Linked DNA regions of Homo sapiens: region 2 is linked to region 1. Evidence: fine-mapped expression QTL. A gene starts in region 1. The other region holds a variant in brackets. All regions are shown on one strand. Distances are from middle to middle. Region 1 holds the start of LPAR6 (lysophosphatidic acid receptor 6). Region 2 has its middle 6.8 kb from the start of CYSLTR2.

What was found.
Region 2: its variant is fine-mapped to the expression of LPAR6 in whole blood (INTERVAL, PIP above 0.99).

The regions. Positions count from the first base shown.
Region 1 is chr13:48,407,365-48,417,427 of GRCh38, reverse strand. It overlaps LPAR6 (lysophosphatidic acid receptor 6), which reads left to right and starts at 4,315. Exons shown (of 1, transcript NM_001162498.3): 1 at 4,315-6,290. The coding sequence starts at 5,005. The coding sequence ends at 6,039. The region is part of intron 17 of RB1 (RB transcriptional corepressor 1); the gene reads right to left. RefSeq lists an enhancer at 5,330-5,831.
Region 2 is chr13:48,642,124-48,652,186 of GRCh38, reverse strand. No RefSeq gene overlaps it. Among named protein-coding and RNA genes, the nearest start is that of CYSLTR2, 6.8 kb to the left of the region's middle. The variant A/G (reference allele first, on the strand shown) is at 5,097.

The DNA of each region.
Region 1 (10,063 bases):
GTGACCTTCAAATGGGGTTTCTGTGTGGAAGTCCTTTTTGTTGATATTGATGCTATTCATTTCTGTTTGTTAGTTCTCCTTCTAACAGTCAGGCCCCTCTGCTGCAGGTCTGCTGGAATTTGCTGGAGGTCCACTCCAGACCCTGTTTGTCTGGATATCACCAGCAGAGGTTGCAGAACAACAAAGATTGCTGCCTGTTCCTTCCTCTGGAAGCTTTGTCCCAGAGGGGCACCCACCAGACGGCAGCTGGAGCTCTCCTGTGTGAGTTGTCTGTCGATTCCTGCTGGGAGGTGTTTCCCAGTCAGGAGACATGGGGGTCAGAGACCCACTTGAGGAGGCAGTCTGTCCCTTAGCAGAGCTCGAGCAATGTCCTGGGAGATCTGCTGCTCTCTTCAGAGCCAGCAGGCAGGAACGTTTAAGTCTGCTGAAGCTGCACCAATAGCCACCCATAGCACCCTTCCCCCAGGTGCTCTGTCCCAGGGAGATGGCAGTTTTATCTATAAGCCCCTGACTGGGGCTGCTGCCTTTTTTTCAGAGATGCCCTGCCCAGAGAGGAGGACTCTAGAGAAGCAGTTGGGCTACAGTGGGCTCCACCCAGTTCAAACTTCCCGGTGGCTTTGCTTACACTGTGAGGTGAAAACCACCTACTCAAGCCTCAGTAATGGCAGAAGCCCCTCCTCCCACCAAGCTCCAGCATCCCAGGTCGACTTCAGACTCCTGTGCTGGCAGTAAGAGTTTCAAGCCAGTGGATCTTAGCTTGCTGGGCTCTGTGGGGGTGGGATCCACTGAGCTAGACCACTTGGCTCCCTGGCTTCAGCCCCTGTTCCAGGGGAGTTAACAGTTCTGTCTCACTGGTGTTTCAGGTGCCACTGGAGTACGAAAAAGAAAAAATCCTGCAGCTAGCTCGGTGTCTGCCCAAACGGCTGCCCAGTTTTGTGCTTGAAACCCAGGGCCTGGGTGGTGTAGGCACCCGAGGGAATTGCCTGGTCTAAGGGTTGTGAAGATCACGGAAAAGGCATAGAGTCTGGGCCGGAATGCATCGTTCCTCGTGGCACATTCCCTCATGGCTTCCCTTAGCTAGGGGAGGAAGTTCCCTGGCCCCTTGCACTTCCCGTGTAAGGCGATGCCCCACCCTGCTTTGGCTCGCCTTCCATGGGCTGCACCCCCTGTCTGACCAGTCTCAATGAGATGAGCTGGGTACCTCAGTTGGAAATAGAGAAATCACCCACCTTCTGCGTTGATTTCGCTGGGAGCTGCAGACTCCAGCTGTTCCTGTGTTCACCATTTTAACATCTATCTGGCTCTGTTTAATTTTCGCTCCCCCCAAAAAATCCATATAAGAAATAAGTTGATTCTCAGAGTTAAGTTCCAGAAGTGTAGAGATCTCACATTAAAATAACAGTTTGCCTGAGTTTATCAAATACAAAAGTATCTATTAAATATAATTGATTATATGGATTCATTACCTCCCTTTGCAAGTAGTTACTCTGTATTTTTCCAATTCTAACCTAAGAATTTTTCAAAGTTTCTAAATTCCCCTTTGGTTCCTTAATTAGAGGCCAAATTTAATATCTGGAAAAAATGCAGTATTCAATTATCTTCTTCCTGTTCAAACAGTCCCTCTGCTATGGCTCTTCCTCAGTAGAAACAACTGGCAACAAAATTCAAGTTTATGATTCATTCATCAGCAAACATGTGAGAATCATCTACAAAGAACCAAGAATTGTGGTAAGAATTATACAAACATTTACTATGATACTGATAATAATGAAAAGCCTAATTCAACAAATAGTGATCTATCCATTTTTAAGCCCCAGTAACTCAAACATTAAAAAACTATAAATGAACAGGCCGGGCACGGTGGCTCACACATGGAATCCCAGCACTTGGGGAGGCTGAAGTGGGTGGATGACTTGAGGTCAGGAGTTCAAGACCAGCCTGGCCACATGGTAAAACCCTATCTCTACTAAAAATACAAAAATTAGCTGGGTGTGGTGGCGGGTGCCCATAATCCCAGCTACTCGGGAGGCTGAGGTGGGAAAATTGCTGGAACCTGGGAGGCAGAGGTTGCAGTAAGACAAGATCGCACCACTGCACTCCAGCCTGGGCGGCAGAGTGAGAAAAAAAAAAGAAAGAAAGAAAAAGAAAAAGAAAAGAAAAGAAAAAACTATAGATGAATGACTTAAGTGAATAACAAGTCAAGTGAGTAATGACAATATGTAGAAAAATATTCCAAGTAGAATTAATAAATTTTAATTATTTGAATGAGAAAATGCCGCCATATTCAAAATGAAAGTAAAAGTAGGATGAGATCAGCATATACAACTGCATATATTTCATTAATTAAAGATGACTAAAGAGGAGACTATCAATTTGAAAGAAGATTACTAAGATTTTGTTTTTTTAAAACATACTGAACCAAATAAAAAAAAAATAACAGTAAGACATAACTACTAACAGAAAATTTTTTCCAATGAGAATACAAGCTTATTAACCACTCCTTTTTTCATTAATGCTCACTCAGCTTCTACCAGCCTTCTAATAAGAACACACACATACATCTTTTCTATACCAAATGTGATATAAAAGATATTCAACCCTTCAAAATTTTAAGTATTGGTTATAAGTAATACTCATCTTTTTTTGTCATTTGATAATAGATGAATTTTCTAGTCCAGACAGTAGAAATAGATTATAGTTCATCAACAAATGACAAAAATTGCTGAGTGTGAAAGAATGGTGCAAAACAACACAAAACATTTTACTGTAATAAGTTATTTTTAAGCTAGCTAAGTAATTTATGAGAAAAAAATAAATTGTTCTTAAATTACTTAATACCCAAGAGGAAGAGTTTCAGCTTAAACTAGACCAAATTAAAAAAATAATAACAGTAAGGCATAACTAGATCTAGCCTTTTCTGAAGAAAATGATATTTAAAACAAGAAAAACATGTGCCATAGAGGTTGTGATATCCTCAATCTTTGAGGAAATAACACCTACATTTAAGTACCCTCACCTTACACACACTTTCTTCTTCTGATTTTGGAGTCTTTAAAATATAAGTATACTTTTTTTTTTTTTTTTTGAGATAGTCTCGCTGTCGCCCAGGCTGGAGTGCAGTGGCTTGATCTTGGTTCACTGCAACATCTGCCTCCCAGGTTCAAGCGATTCTCCTGCCTCAGTCTCCTGGGTAGCTGGGACTACAGGCACGCACTATTGCCCTAGGCTAGTTTTGTATTTTTGGTAGAGATGGGGTTTCGCCATTTTGGCCAGGCTGCTCTCAAACTCCTGATCTCAGGTGATCCACCTGCCTCGGCCTTCCAAAGTGCTGGGATTATAGGCGTGAGCCACTGCACCTGGCCCAAAATATGAGTATACTTTAAATATAAACATATAAACCATTCATAGAAACTTTTAGATGGAGACAAAATCTGAAATATATTTCAATATATAGTTAATGTCATATTAAGGGGTTAAGGGAAGAGCTGGGAGGAAGAAGGAAGATAAGACTATGAACCTAAAATTTTGCCAAGTAGTAGGATTTTTATTCTCTAAACCTTATTTCAATCAATTTAAGGTTAAAAAAATTTTGCTTAAAAAGATGCAATTTCATTTTGTGCTTAGAAAGTAAAATTAACACCACACCAAAGATAAACATTCTTGAGTTTGTTCTTTTGGAGAAATGAGTAATTTAAAAATTTAAACAGCTCTAAAATATTAATACAACTGCATAGGAAAGAGGAAAGAATGTTAGAAAATTGCTTATCAAAAACTAATGAGACCCAGGATAAGAGCTACTCATAATGATAACAATTAAATATTGAGTATTTTTCAGAAACCAAGAGTCAAATGCTTGTTATACCTTAAAGGTTAAAGGCCCCTGTTTCATAGTCATTAAACAGTTCTTTGAAATGCTATGTTAAGATATCACTAACAATTTCAATTTATAAATACACACCCATACACATTTTCTTTTCTAAATTGTCATATCCCAAACACGAAAACAATCGAATAAGAGAACAGGCTGAATAGTGATTTTTTTCTTTCAATTATTACTACTGAAACAAATCAAAACAACTCTGAGAGGTTGCCAGCACCGCAGAAGGCATTTCCACATAAAAAGAGTTAATGAGCAGACCACGCAGTTCAACAGCCAGTGACCATTTGCAAGCCTCCTAGGTATATTCCCAGCAGACACATTATCAGATTAAAGGAAGTGCAAACAAACTGGGCTGAAAGTTTCTTTGTCCAAACCCAGCCTCTTCTTCCTGTGATGTCATATTACAAATCTAGGAAGCCTTTCTTTTTCACTTCAGAGAAAGCGACCTCAAGATACAACTGGCAACTGAGGAAAAGGCCTCAATTCAACAAGAGCTAACAAGCTTGGGAGTTTATTTCGGAATCTTTAAAAGACTCTTCTGCTTACCCACAATCTGGGATCCACTGCAGGAAAACAAAAAAGGAAAACTTCATTTAAAAGAAGCAAGAAGTAAAATGGGACAAATTGGGAATGTTTAAGTCTCTGAAACTCTGCACTGAAAAGAAAATAAGATTGATAACTTAAGCTTAACATTCTGAGGCATAAAGAAACATTAACTTTGGAGTATTCATCTTGACTACTGAAATACAAGTTTAGAAGACAAGTGGTTTCATTCTGGTCACAGATCACAGCTTTTCTTTAAATTTATAATCCTATGGGTTGGACTCGTTGACTGTATTTTTTAAAGGTTGCTCGTCAGTTAACTGAGCCTTGGAATTCATGGATTTTCTAAAGACTAACAAATGAAAATATTTTCCTGTTGAAGAACCCAGCGGAAATTTTACAGCAACAAATTTCATGTTTCTTTTGGGTATTTCTGAGAAAAAGGAAATATTTATAAAACCATCCAAAGATCCAGATAATTTGCAAATAAATTGGAGGTTATAGAGGTTATAATCTGAATCCCAAAGGAGACTGCAGCTGATGAAAGTGCTTCCAAACTGAAAATTGGACGTGCCTTTACGATGGTAAGCGTTAACAGCTCCCACTGCTTCTATAATGACTCCTTTAAGTACACTTTGTATGGGTGCATGTTCAGCATGGTGTTTGTGCTTGGGTTAATATCCAATTGTGTTGCCATATACATTTTCATCTGCGTCCTCAAAGTCCGAAATGAAACTACAACTTACATGATTAACTTGGCAATGTCAGACTTGCTTTTTGTTTTTACTTTACCCTTCAGGATTTTTTACTTCACAACACGGAATTGGCCATTTGGAGATTTACTTTGTAAGATTTCTGTGATGCTGTTTTATACCAACATGTACGGAAGCATTCTGTTCTTAACCTGTATTAGTGTAGATCGATTTCTGGCAATTGTCTACCCATTTAAGTCAAAGACTCTAAGAACCAAAAGAAATGCAAAGATTGTTTGCACTGGCGTGTGGTTAACTGTGATCGGAGGAAGTGCACCCGCCGTTTTTGTTCAGTCTACCCACTCTCAGGGTAACAATGCCTCAGAAGCCTGCTTTGAAAATTTTCCAGAAGCCACATGGAAAACATATCTCTCAAGGATTGTAATTTTCATCGAAATAGTGGGATTTTTTATTCCTCTAATTTTAAATGTAACTTGTTCTAGTATGGTGCTAAAAACTTTAACCAAACCTGTTACATTAAGTAGAAGCAAAATAAACAAAACTAAGGTTTTAAAAATGATTTTTGTACATTTGATCATATTCTGTTTCTGTTTTGTTCCTTACAATATCAATCTTATTTTATATTCTCTTGTGAGAACACAAACATTTGTTAATTGCTCAGTAGTGGCAGCAGTAAGGACAATGTACCCAATCACTCTCTGTATTGCTGTTTCCAACTGTTGTTTTGACCCTATAGTTTACTACTTTACATCGGACACAATTCAGAATTCAATAAAAATGAAAAACTGGTCTGTCAGGAGAAGTGACTTCAGATTCTCTGAAGTTCATGGTGCAGAGAATTTTATTCAGCATAACCTACAGACCTTAAAAAGTAAGATATTTGACAATGAATCTGCTGCCTGAAATAAAACCATTAGGACTCACTGGGACAGAACTTTCAAGTTCCTTCAACTGTGAAAAGTGTCTTTTTGGACAAACTATTTTTCCACCTCCAAAAGAAATTAACACATGGACATTTTAAAGTCTTTAGTATAAAGAAAATTTGTATTCAATGTGTTAAGCATTAACATGTATTTTATTTGTGTATCCACTCCATCTGATTTTTCTGAGCCATTTTGATTTGTTCCTTCATTAAAAAAAATCTCTTAAAGTTATTTAGTGTCTAAAAGTGACTGACTTAAATTATGTGGTGCCAATCTGTAATGTCTTTGAATTCCTTTTTATATTAAATGATTTAATTTACTAAATTATTTTATACTAATTTATGTTTATGTAATATTTTATTCAACATACCATTTTTATTTTGAATTAAAACTACTAATCATATTTCTTAAACTATGATTAACAAATGAGAAAGAAGAGTAATTTGAAATAAATGTTTTGGGAGTATTTTAAAATATATGTATAACTAAAAACGTAGTCTTCTGTAGAAATGATGACATATTAACATTGTTGGAAGATCTTGAGCAGTAACACATTGATAACATTTTGGGAGTTTGGTCTGTGTAGGCAATTTGTAGAAAGCAGATGCTATCTATATGGTATGCTTTGAAGTTACTATTTTGATTTTCTGTATATAATGCACCCAATTTCAAAATGATATATGCCACAAAAATTGAGAGGGAGAAAACTAATAAAATGTCATTTTGCTAAGTTTTTACTTAGCAAAAAAATAAAATACTACCAGAGGTACATTTTAAAGGTGCACTTACATCACAGTCAAGAACTTATGTTTTAAGTATGTTAGGTCGGAGAAACATCAGAGATAGTGAAATATAGTACTTGGCATTTAGAAAGTAATATACTGTCACGTGTTGCTTATGATGCTTGCTTAGGTAATTATGTCGTGCAAACATCACAGTGTGTACTTACACAACTCTAGAAGGTATACACTATTACACACCTAGGCTTATATGGTACACCCTACTGCTTCTAGGCTACAAACCTATACAGCATGCTACTGCAAAGAATACTGTAGGCAACTGTAAAATAATGGTACTTGTGTATCTAAATACATCTCAACACAGAAAAGGTACAGTAAAAATATAGTATGATAATCTTATGAGACCACCATCGTTTATGCGGTCATTGACCAAAATGCTATTACGTGATGCATGACTGTAAATATTTTCTTTTCCTTCACTCTTCTGGCCATTTTAAGCCAAATATTGGGAAGTTCAAAACATTATTTCAAGTAGGCAAGATGTTATTGTACGTCAAAATGATTAATTAAGGACACAGTTCCTTACATTATAAAGTAACAAAACTACAAGGCCAAATAACTAAACAAAACTATATTTTCATTTCACTAAACATAAAATAGGTCTGGCTCTGAGGTATACTTTAGAAAAAAAGTACCAAGTACACTAAAACTTTTTTATTATCCAACATATTCCTTTTTTAAAAAAATTCAGGCCGGGCACGGTGGTTCACACCTGTAATCCTAGCACTTTGGGTGGCTGAGGCGGGTGGATCATAAGGTCAAGAGATCAAGACCCTCCTGGCCAACATGGTGAAACCCCGTCTCTACTAAAAATACAAAAATTAGCTGGGTGTGGTGGCACATGCCTGTAGTCCCAGCTACTCGGGAGGCAGAGGCAGGAGAATCGCTTGAACCCAGGAGTCAGAGGTTGCAGTGAGCCAAGATCTCGCCACTGCACTCCAGCCGGGCGACAGAGCGAGACTCCATCTCAAAAAAAAAAAAAAAAAAAAAAAAAAAAATCAAGCAGTTCTCCAAAGTTAACTAAAAAAGAATGCCTTCTATTTAAGGAAAAGGACATGTAATTAAATTCAGCATCCAACCTATCTGATTTCTACTGTCTTAATCTTTCAAGTCCTCAATACAACTTGGACAAAAAACTCTTTTAAGACATAAATTTGATTTTTGCTGTTCTCTGGGTTTGAGGTGTAATGATTTCAGAAAAATCACAATCATTTGCTAGACAGGTAAACCCATTTTCAATAAAATAACAGTGGGGGGTTTTCTTTAGGGATCCATGGTTTCCTTTAGATAAACCTAAAGCAAAATACATCTTTAATGCCTTCAGCCCAGGAGTTCCAAGTTAGAGTGAGATATGATCACACCACTGTACTCCAGCATGGACAACAGAGCAAGATCCTATCTCAAAAAAAAAAAAAAAAGAGAAAAGAAAAAAAACCCAAAAAACTAGTGAAGATACTAACCATGGTCCTTTATATCCCAAGAGAAATATATACATAATATAAATGTGTTTTCTTCCATTGACCTGAAATTCCTTTATTTGATATTACACTTCAGTAAATAAAAATACACTCTTTCTTAAACATACTGAGTTGAGAAGCAACTACCAATCTACTGATCTGGGGGAAAGGGGTGGAGAATTGTATAACTTTGAGATTTCTCAGAACTCTCCTCAGCTTAAAGATCTCAACTTAAGGCAAGATCATAAAACATGAATATAACTTTAAAATGCAAATAAAACAGTCATTAAATAGTTGTTATTACTATGTTCATAAAGAAACTTTTTGGTGTCTCTTGTCAACAGGAAGATAAATGAATCAAAAGTTTTGTAAGATTCTTCATAAAGCAATACATAACAGATAACAAACATGGTTTTCTCATCTAGAACTATGGAAAAAAAGTGTACCAGAACAAAATTTATTTTCCTTTGCTAGTGTTGTACTTTGTGGTAAGTCATATATTCTGAGGGTTTTCTCTTCCCTTCCCCCTTTATTCAGAAAAACCTATATTAATATTAGAACTCTGATGATTTTACTTTTGATTACCTGAAAATGATAGCACTAAGCCCCCCTATAAAAACTGTGCCCACTGTTATTAACATTTTCATAAAACGGTAGATGATTTGACTAATCTTCCTTCCCACATTAACTCCCTTCAAAGGAACACAGTAAGCTGAGAAAATTTTTCAGGTGTGGAAAAATGGCTTTCCAGCATCCTAATAATTTCTGAACTTAGAAATCATCTTTACTGAGAAAATATCAAGTACCTAGTTTATTTTAAAAAGCATAAAAATATATGTATTATATATATTATATTCACAGAAAATTAAACTGAAGACACTACTTAAGGAGCTATCAATGAACCTTAATATTCTACATTCAAAATGCTGAAAAGTAAATTGGAAATAGAAATCTTAATTATAGATATTGGTATTTAAAGAAATTAGTCACTAAATTGAGAAATATAAAATAGAAAATGGAGCAAACTTCATATTCCCATCCGAGAAACATTTGGTTCATGAATGGTACATAGTTATCAAGAATCTGAAGCAATTGCTTTTTGGTCCTACAATTTTGGACACCTGATGAACCAAGTATTTTGTCCTTTGTCAATATATTAAATTACTATTTCCAAGAAGAAGCATCACTACCTTCCAGCACCTAAACTTTTTTCGTGCCTAAATGCCAGTCCAACTCTGGATGTCACAAATGTTCTTAGTTGTGAATAAATTTTTGTGTAGAAACAATTTTATAAACAGTGCTTAGGCAGGGATGAAATCTTAAAGACTCCAAAAACAAACTTTTTAAAAAGCTTTTTGGGGCTTTCCTGAAAACTGAATTACCCATTTATAACATGGCTTCTAAGAAATAAATTACAAATTAAAAAGGACTAATGAACAAACTTAAGAATGTAGAACACACATTAATATCTAAACCGACCAGAGTACTTAATGATCAACAGCATTACTTATTTAGCAATATTTTCCAGAGATCAGCATGTACATAACTCCTAAAATCTCTAATTCTCAAATTTCTATTTTCTCTTTATCATTTTTACTTGATGTCAGACAGTTTTATAAAAGTACAAAGAATGTCAATTAAACAAGGCAACAGATCAGATAATAAATGAACAGGAGATTAACACCAGGCAAACTTCTCTCTCTTTTTTATTACCTTAAAATGATAGTGTTAAGCCTCTCCTACCTTC
Region 2 (10,063 bases), 230 kb before region 1:
AGACAAGGTTCTTCCTGGGTCTGGGATTCTATTTCTAGTATTTTATTTATCCCAATTAGAACTCACAGTACACAAATGTTATATTACCATTCTCATCTTTAGGGGGCAAAAAGCTTGAAACAACATTTCATTCTACAAGCAGTCACTATAGATATTCATTCTTCTCCAATAAAAGCCCAATTGGCCAGGCGCAGTGACCTCACGCCTGTAATCCCAGCACTTTGGGAGGCCAAAGTGGGCAGATCACGAGGTCGGGAGTTGGAGACCAGCCTAGCCAATATGGTGAAACCCTGTCTCTACTAAAAATACAAAAATTAGCCAGGCATGGTGGCACGCGCCAGTAGTCCCAGCTACTTGGGAGGCTGAGGCAGGAAAATCATTTGAACCCGGAAGGTGGAGGTTGCAGTGAGCCAAAAAGCCCAATTAATTGACTAATGTTCATCTCATTAAAATGAATAAAGTGGGCTGGATGGAGTGGCTCACCCCTATAACCCTAGCACTTTGGGAGGCTGAGGCAGGAAGATCTCGAGTCCAGAACAGACTGAAAGCAGTCTGAGTGACACAGGGAGACCCCATCTCTAAAAAAAAAAATACAAAAATTAGCTGGACATGGTGGCATGTGCCTATAGTCTCAGCTACTCAGGAAGCTAAAGTGGAAGGATTGCTTGAGCTGGGGATGTTGTGGCTGCAGTGAGCTGGGATCACACCACTGCACTCCAGCCTGGGTGACAGAGCAAGACTGCCTCAGAAAAAAAAAAAAAAGGCTCATGCCTAATCCCAGCACTTTGGTGGGCTGAGGCGGGTGGATCACGAGGTCAGGAGTTCGAGACCAGCCTGGCCAAGATGGTGAAACCCCGTCTCTACTAAAAACACAAAAATTAGCCTGGCGTGGTGACAGGCACCTGTAATCCCAGCTACTTGGGAGGCTAAGGCAGGGAATTGCTTGAACCCGGGAGGCGCAGGTTGCAGTGAACTGAGATCGTGCCACTGCACTCCAGCCTGGGTGACAGAGTGAGACTCTGTCTCCAAAAAATAAAAAATAAAAATAAAAATAAAAAAAATTAAAAACTTTAAAATAAAATAAACAGTGAAAAAAAATCGATCCTACACTCCGAGAGCTAACTTTTGAATATTAGGTTTTCAAGGAGCAGAATATGTTTCAAGAGTATTAGAAAGATAATGAGGGAAATGCTTTCTCCCTACTCCCTGCTTCTGAATCTGTAAACCTCAGAGAAAGGAGAAACCTATTCAAGACTTTCTTTTATTTTTAGGACAGCCTGGGATCTCTAAGCACTCCATAGGCAGTAAATTTGCTGGAGAGTGCCCATTAGACACTCTTTCTTTGTACAATTTGGACAGATGATATAAAGAGATGCAATGTCATTTTAACCGGATTTGTCAGGATGGAGCAAGAAATCATTCATTTAGAGTAGATAGGGAAAGGGTCGATGACTTTAAAAAGAAGATAATCCTAGGGAGCAGAGAAAGGAATAAACACATTATCCTATGTGCTGCTCTTGATGATTTAAAGGAAAACATGGAAGCGTGTTTAATGTATATGGCACACAGAGAACTTCTCCGGAACTTTCAAAGGCCTGCAGAAGTAATCAAGAGATGAGAATCAACTCCAGTTTTGTAGGAGACTTCCAAGTTTGTTCTCAGTTGAACAAAGTGAGTTTAAGAGAATCAGGGCCAGTTTCTTGCTGATTACAGTAATGTACCAGCCACAAGGCCTTTAGTTAGACTTTTAGAGACATAAGCTTGAGTCTAGAGGATATATTCCTATAAGCACAAACCTGTGATTTTCAAAAGATCAGAAGCACTATTAAGTTACTAAGGCATCAGAGACAGTAGTTTGTTTTCATAGTGCAAGGTTAAATACAAAGGAAGAAGTCAGCGTGAATCATGTTTCTATTTAGGTCATTAAGAAAGTGGAAGAACAGGCTGGGCGCAGTGGCTCACGCCTGTAATCCCAGCACTTTGGGAGGCCGAAGTGGGCAGATGACGAGGTCAGGAGTTCAAGACCAGCCTGGCCAACATGGTGAAACCCTATCTCTACTAAAAATACAAAAATTAGCTGGGCATGGTGGCAGGTGCCTGTAATCCCAGCTACTTGGGATGCTGAGGCAGGAGAATCGTTTGAACCTGGGAGGTGAAAGTTGCGGCGAGCTGAGATTATACCGTTGAGCTCCTCAGCCTGGGCAACAAGAGCGAAACTCCATCTCAAAAAAAAAAAAAAGAAAGAAAGGGGAACAATGGAAACAAACTTGAAACCTCATGGAATTTAGAAAGCAACCAACTTTATGTGTAAGAGAGCCTGTTCTGTGATAAGACAGAGAAAAGAATTACGTAGTGTAGTGGGCTACACATTGGCACCAAAGACATGCCCATATTCAAATCCTGGATTCTGTAAATGTGACCTTATGTGGCACAAATGGTGGTTAATTAAGGATCTTGAGGCAACGAGTTTATTTTTCATTATCCAGGTGAGCCCAAAATACAATTACATGTATCCTTGTAAGAGAGACGACAAAGGAGTGTCAACAAGCTCACACAGGGGAGAAGGCCATGTAAAATGATTAAAGTGATGCAGCTATAAGCCAAGGAACACCTGGAGCCACTAGAACTGGTAAATCAATGAAAGACTCCCCCTAGAGCCTTCAGAAGAGGGAGTGCAGCCCTGCTGGCATCTTGATTTCTGACTTCTGCCCTCCAGAACTGTGAGAGAATGAATTTCTGTTGCTTTAATTTAAGCCATCAAGTTTGCAGTACTTTGTTATGGTAGTCCTAGGGAACACATCTACATTTCCCTTCTCCAACCAAGGGAACCCAAAATTCAGGGAGAAAGTTATAAACTTGCCATAAGATAACGCAATAGACTTAACTAATTCATAGTGAGCTTGCATCCTTTTTAGTTTGTTTCGATTTTCAGTCTCTCATATGTAATTCTCCCTTCAAAAAGAACAATTTAGCTTCCCAAGCAGTGTCAGCTCTCTGGAGAGGTGATGAGGCTGGAGTGAGCATTAATGTCCGCTCCAGTCCAATCAGAGTTGGGAGAGAAAGTAGCCGGAGAACTGTGCAGTGCGTGGGCCACATGACACCCTCTCCCCACTCATCCCTGGCGTCCCCCCACATACACATACATACACACTTACCTCTTTAATTTTTTTTTAGTATGTTGAGCAAATTGGAAGATTGCCAAATTAAGGATTCCAGAAGGGGGTTTTTCCAAAAGGGAGTTTTTCTTTGCATAATATCGTATGAGAGTGAGAATCAGGAGATTCTGGTTTGAACCCTAAGAGGCCCAGCCAACGGCCCTTGGAGAGGAGCAGGCCCATGTCCCACGGCATGATTTATATCACAAGTTTCAGGCAGAGCAGTCTTTGTGGAGATCATTGAGGACTGAACTCTGACCTCTTTCTCTTTGCTAAAAATTCTCTCCAAAAAGGCCTGGAGAGAGTCATACCTACAGACCATCAATCTGGCTAAACATGTCATTTTGACCCAATATATTGTATCTTGCTCTCATAACCCGACTCTGGCATAGCATCACATGATGACTAGCAAACTTCCTTCCTTTCATGTAAACATTTCTTTAAGCTGACTTTACACAGAGCTTTGTTCCTTTAACCAATTACAAATTAAAGAATCTTTGATCCCACCTATGACCTGTAAGTCCCCCAATTCATGATATCCCACCTCTTGGGGCTGAACCAATGTATAAACCTCCATGTATCAATTTACAACTTTGCCTGTAGTTTCTGCTGCCCTGAAATGCTTAAAACAGAGTTACAGTCCGACTGCCTTGGGACTCCTTTCTCATGGCCTCTTGGGTTTGTGTTTTCCCTGGGCCGTGGTCACTCATATTGGCCTAGAATAAACCTCTTTGAAATGTTGTGCAGAGTTTGGTTTTTCTGCTGACAGCATAAACATGGAGAAGGGAGCCAAAGTTACGTTAACACTCTTCACTCCCCTATCAGATCCTTCCCTTTCTTTCAGCCACCTTTTCTCAGACCCCAAAAATTTCCTGCTGCTCATGTAAGGCCTTTCCCATCCTGAGGGTACTAATTAGTCAAGTCACATAAGGCAAATTAGTGACTAAGAACATAGCATTCTGGAAAAAGACCACAGAATTAGAGCCTCCACAAAACCCATGGTACAGAAGAGACCCTAAACCCGCCAGCTTAGTTTCAAATCTGCAATTCCTCATCATCCCCTTTTGTTTTCTTCTAAATCCTAGCAGTAAGTCTGAGCACTGCTTGACTGGACCTTGAGGCTGGCTCCCTGGATTCTGTGGCTTCAGTCTGGGCAGGTGAGTCCTTCTTCACTCCCGCCTCTGTAGCCCTAGCTTCAGGCAGCAGGTGGCCACCAAGACCATGAGATGGAGATTTGAGAGATGATCTGGTCCTGTTTCAGCCAGGCTGGTGTAGGGTCTTGGAAACACACCTTGGGAACTTCCAGGGCTTCTTGCATATTGAGTGTATACAAGGCTCTGGGGATGAGGAAGGAAGAAAGATACAAAGATAAATAAGACCAGTTCTAGAACTCAAGGGATCTCTGGAGTAAACTTAATTTCTTCACATGAAAATCATTCATAGTACCATCTCCCAAAAGACAAATTTTTGGTGCATTCTCTGCCAGACAGTTTTCTAAGCTGTTGCTTGCTCATTTGTTGCTTCATTTGACAAAAATTTGCATCCTGCATTTTTCCCATTTACACTGCAACACAACGTTTTACCACATCGGCATGAATGTTTTAATTATTGAATTATATTCCTATATTCCATCAACAGGATGCGCCGTAGTGGGGAGAATAAACTACACTTCTTGTTATTTTTTCCCCTTATGCATGCAGCTTTTCCCTAATCTAGGATCTAGGTTAGTTTCACTAATAGAATGTAAGAGGGAGTTTGCAAACAGTAAGTTTCACATGGCAGGTCAGGGAAGAAGGACTTCTTGAAAAAAATGGCAACTGAGCTATAAAAATACTAAAGAAAGTTCTATTTTCCACCTACCCTGGGTTGAGACTGAGTTTGAAGCTAGAGCTTTAAGCACTAATGTAGGTGACTCAAGGGGAGGGTCCTCCCTGATAACAC[A/G]TGTGGTGGCCAGGCTCAGGGCCAGAGCACTGTGGCACAGCTACAGCACCTACCAGGGAGGTCTGCTGAGCACTGGGCAGAGCACATGCAAGGCAGGAGCAGCATCATCACCTGGCTGCCCTCTAGGCGTGGCTCAGTGCAGGCACATGCTCGGACATCTAGCAGTGCGGGTGGTAGCTGCAGTGGGGCTGGTGTCTTTCCTCCTTTCCCACCTGTGGATAGGAGATGACCCAGCTGGAGCAGAAGACTCAAGAGAATTTGGAAAATAGGCATGAGGAAGGTTGGGGTCAAGGACAGCAGGAGAGGAGATAGGTTGGAAACAAAATGTCACCCCAAATGAAGACCTCCAAGCCAGATAATTTCATTTGGTACCTTTACTGCCCAGGCTTGCGGGCCCACTGGGTGGGCTCAGTTCCCTTCCTCACCTCTACCCTGCTCTACTCTCTATAGGGTGCGGTGAGGGCTCACCCCTAAAGCTCAGACTCCCATATCAGCCCAGCTTCTGGCTGGATTTGGCACTGGTGGGAGGTGGGAAGGTGGAAAAAAAGGAGAAAAAAGCCAGAGCATTTCTCCCTGTATTAGTCCATTCTCACACTGCTATAAAGAACTTCCTGAGACTGGGTAATTTATAAAGGAAAGAGGCTTAACTAACTTATAGTTCCGTATGATTGGGGAAGTTTCAGGAAACTTACAATCATGGTGGAAGGCGAAGGGTAAGCAGACACCTTCTTCACAAGGCTGCAGGAGAGAGAAGTGAGGGAAAGAGCCCCTTATAAAACCATCAGATCTCATGAAAACTCACTCATTATCATGAGAACAGCATGGGGGAACCATCCCCATGATTCAATTACCTCCACCTGGTCTCTCCCTTGACGTGGGGATTATGATGATTATAATTCAAGATGAGATTTGAGTGCGGACAAAAAGCCTAACGATATCACTCCCCATCTGTTCTGCAGGTGGCATTTCTGATGGCAACTGTGTGTTCTGTGGGGCCCCAGCTTCTGTTGTGTGACTCCCAGGCTTGGGGAAACCTGTCTCCTCCCTGTATCTCTGCAGCCCAGGCATGGTGATGGCTTCTTGCTGTGTTAAACTCTGTGTTATCTCAGTTCCCTGCTTGTCTCTCAGCCCTTCCATCACCTGAGTAAACCTTCCCTGCTTTAAATATTCAGAATGAATTCCCAGGTCCCTGTGACCTGAAGGGTGGGTTACTCTAGTGAGCTTCTAGCTCTATGAGGAGCACATGTTCACTATGTCCAAATACTCCAACAGCCAGGTCCTGGGATTCATCCAGGTGCCAGTTCTGTGCTAGGCATCTCACACAGATCTCATGTAGCCATTGCAATGACCCTTTGCATTTGTTATTGTCCCATTTTGAAAATACCTAAATGATGAGAAACTTGCATTTCCAAGATGCTAAATAACTATGCGCCCTTTCTACCATTAGCCAATACTAGGGATACTAACAATAGATCCCTTTGACATTATAAATATATCTTCCTCATATTAGGGACTTTCTACTTACTAGCAGAAACTATGGGCTCCTCTTGGCATTGATGAGCATTTACGTGATGCTCACGTTAATTTGGCGCCACTAATGCCTTAGTTTATCTGGCTTTTCTCCATTTAACAGAGCTGAAGATAGGGGCGGTAAGTGCCTCTTAAAGTGAGCATGTGCAATCAAATATGCACAAGCTCATGAACCGAGAAAACAACATCGTGAAATGTACCATGCATTTAGTATCTAAGAGTGCTTTGTAGTGGTTTTAATAGCTGGAGACTCCAGAATTCCACAGAGCCCAGGAAATTGTATTATTTCATCCAGGTCATTAGGAACCAAGGGTTATTAGTCATTAATCCACTTAGGAACTGCTCAGACCAGACAATTCACTTTGCTTCTCAGAGATGCTCCTCTGGATGATGGTCCCAGGTGCAGTTAGCATTGCCTTCTGCTCTGGTGGGGAGGGGCAGATGCTGTGGAAAAGAGCCCTGCCTGGAGGCCAGCCTGAGCTCCATGCTGGTGAGGTGCAATGGGTGTTTTGGAAAAACAAACAAATGGGAAACATGTGGCAGTGGAGAAGAAATTCTGAAATTTGGATTTCCCACTTTCCAGGGATGTCAGTGTTTTTCCATTTCTTCTCCTGGTGCACATAAAAAGATTCTTCTGTTTTGAATGTGTTAAGTAATCAGGGGCCTAGAAGCATGAAACCTCAGGAAACCTAGTAGGGTATTTTAAAGAACCAGCTTGATACAAGACTGTTGCTTTCCTCTATGTATGACATGGTAGGAAAATAATAAATCAGCTTCTCGTGTGCCAGAACCAGAACACCTTAAGTATCAGTAACCCCATTGTCTAAACTGTGACTGCCACATAGCAAGTGCTCAATAAATATTTGTTGTGTGAAGAAAGGAATTGAATCACCTTGCCAACTTTAAGAAATACACCTGATTTTCCTCTTTCCTTCAGTCTTCCCTCTATCCATTTGCTAACAAACACTAAGCAGAAGTGTGCCAGTCCCTGTCCTGGACAAGAAGTAAGCAACAACACCTAAGACGTGGCTCCTGCACTTCAGAGGATCACTAGTGGTAGAGAGAGGCAGGAGGTGAACGTTCCTGAGCACTTGTGCTTGCAGGGCGTGGAGGAGGGAATGGCCAGTCCCAGGGCCCAGCTACTGCCTACAAGTGTCTCTGTGTGAAGGCTGACCCTTCTGGGTGTTAGGATTACCATAAGGTTTTCCTTTCATTGTTAGCCATAGCCTGGGGCAAAGACTCACCAGTTGCCAGGAACAGTAGCTGAATTTCCATCCTACCCCTTTCTCGGTCCAGAGCACAACTAGCACCGCTGTCTTGCCTTGCCCTGGTCAGGTCTTCCCAAGGAAGAGCACATCAGAAAACACTTCTGTGGGGCAGTGGGGCAGGAACTGACTCTGGAAGAGAAGCAGGTGCCCCAGGTGAAGGGAGGGCCTTTGTGGCAGAGGGAACCACGGAAAAAATGCCAAGGCATTCTGCAGAGGGCCACATGGGCATGAGCCACAGGCCAATCTGAGCTCTAATTTATGTCATCATTTCCAGCTCTGTGTCCACAGGTACATGACTTACCCTCTCTGCTGTACACTGAATGTTTGTGTCCCCCAATAATTCATCTGTTGAAATCCTCACCCACAAGGTGATAGTATTAGGAGGTGGGGCTTTGGGAGGTGGTCAGGTTATGAGAGCAGAGCACTCGTGAATGGGATTAGTGCTCTAATAAAAATGACCCCAGAGAACTCCCATAGGATTTCAGACTTCTAGCCTCTACATTTGTGAGAAATAAATTTCTGTTGTTTCTGTTCCACCCAGTCTATGGTATTTTGTTACAGCAGCCCAAGTGGACTAAGAGACGCTCTGAGCCCCTTTGCTCCCCATGAAATGGTGGTGGAGTGCACAGCGGGGTTGTTCTGAAGGCTGAGTGAGTTCCTGCGCATGAAGTGCTTAGCACAGAACCTGCTAACACACAGCAAATTCTGCTGTTTTGGGGGAGGATAAAAAATGAATTATAAATAGAGCCTCTCCTTCCAACAAATCTATAATCCTAAAAAAATATATATATGATTGTTCTCATTTTATATTTGAGGACACAGAGTTGGAACACTTAATAAACTGCTTAAAATTACTTTGATTTCAAGAATATCTGACTCCGGAGCCTGTGCTCTTATTTTTATCCTCATCCCCTTGTCACTTACTGGCACCTGGGGACTGGTGTAAGGCACTGCAATGGATATAAAGGCAATGTAAACTGCTTTAAAGAAATGGAGCCTACCAGAAAGGAGCCTAAAGTCTAGTACTTCAGAAAAGGCATGAACACAAAATTTGGACTCTAGATAGATGAAAATTTCACAGAGGAAGCTGATGAGTTTAGACTCCTATAATGTTGATTATCTTATAGGCAGGTGTGATGGTTAATTGTATGTGTCACTTTGTCTAGGCCCAACTGTTTGGTCAATCACCAGTGTAGATGTTGCTATGAAGGTATTTTTAAGATGAGATTAATATTTAAGAACATTGAGTAAAGCAGATTAGACTTCGTAATCCTTGATTAAGAGCAAAGACTGAGGTTCCCCAAAAGTAGAAAAAATTCTCAAGACTTCAACATGGAAACCCTTCCTGAGTTTCAAATCTGTTGCCTGCAAAATTTGGACTCAAGACTACAACATCAACTTGTCAATCGAAGAAAATGATGAGACAAGTCTCAATCATTTTTGGAGATTTATTTGCCAAAGTTAAGGACATTGCCTGGGAGACAGGTCTATGCCTTTCTCTGAAGATGATTTTGAGGGCTCCAAATTTAAAGGGGAAATGGCAAAGGGTGGGGATATTGAGAAGCACACAGTTTTCACATAAACAAAAGGGGCAGAGGAAAAATGGGGGGAAATCTGCATTTTACATAAGATAACACAGACAAAATGGGGTAGGGGAGCAATCAGATATGTATCTGTGTCTGGCAGGCTGGGTGACTACACCTGTAAGCTATCAATTTGCATTGCCATGGTGAAGTTTTAACAGCTCACTAGCAATTTCCTTGTGGGTAAAATATGGGGCAGGCGGGTAGCTCTTCATCTTGTAGACATCTTATTTGGTATCCAATAGGTGGAGGCAGGTTTGCATGACCCAGTTCCCAGCTTGACTTTTCCCTTTGGCTAAATGAGTTTGCGGTCCCCAAATTTAATTTCCTTTCACAAACTCTTCCTGGGATTTCCAGCTTACCAGCCTGCCCTATGGTTTTTTAACTTGCCAGCACCCACCACATGAGCAATTTATTAAATTAAACAGATCAGGCCCCATGTGCATGTGTGTGTGTGCGTGTGTGTGTATGCGTGCGCGTGTGTCCTTTTGGTTTGGTTTCTCCAGAAAACGCTGACTAATACTGTATGGTTTGGGAAACATTTCAGGAAAACTTTGGCAGGGAGAGGGGCACAAAGGATAATTAC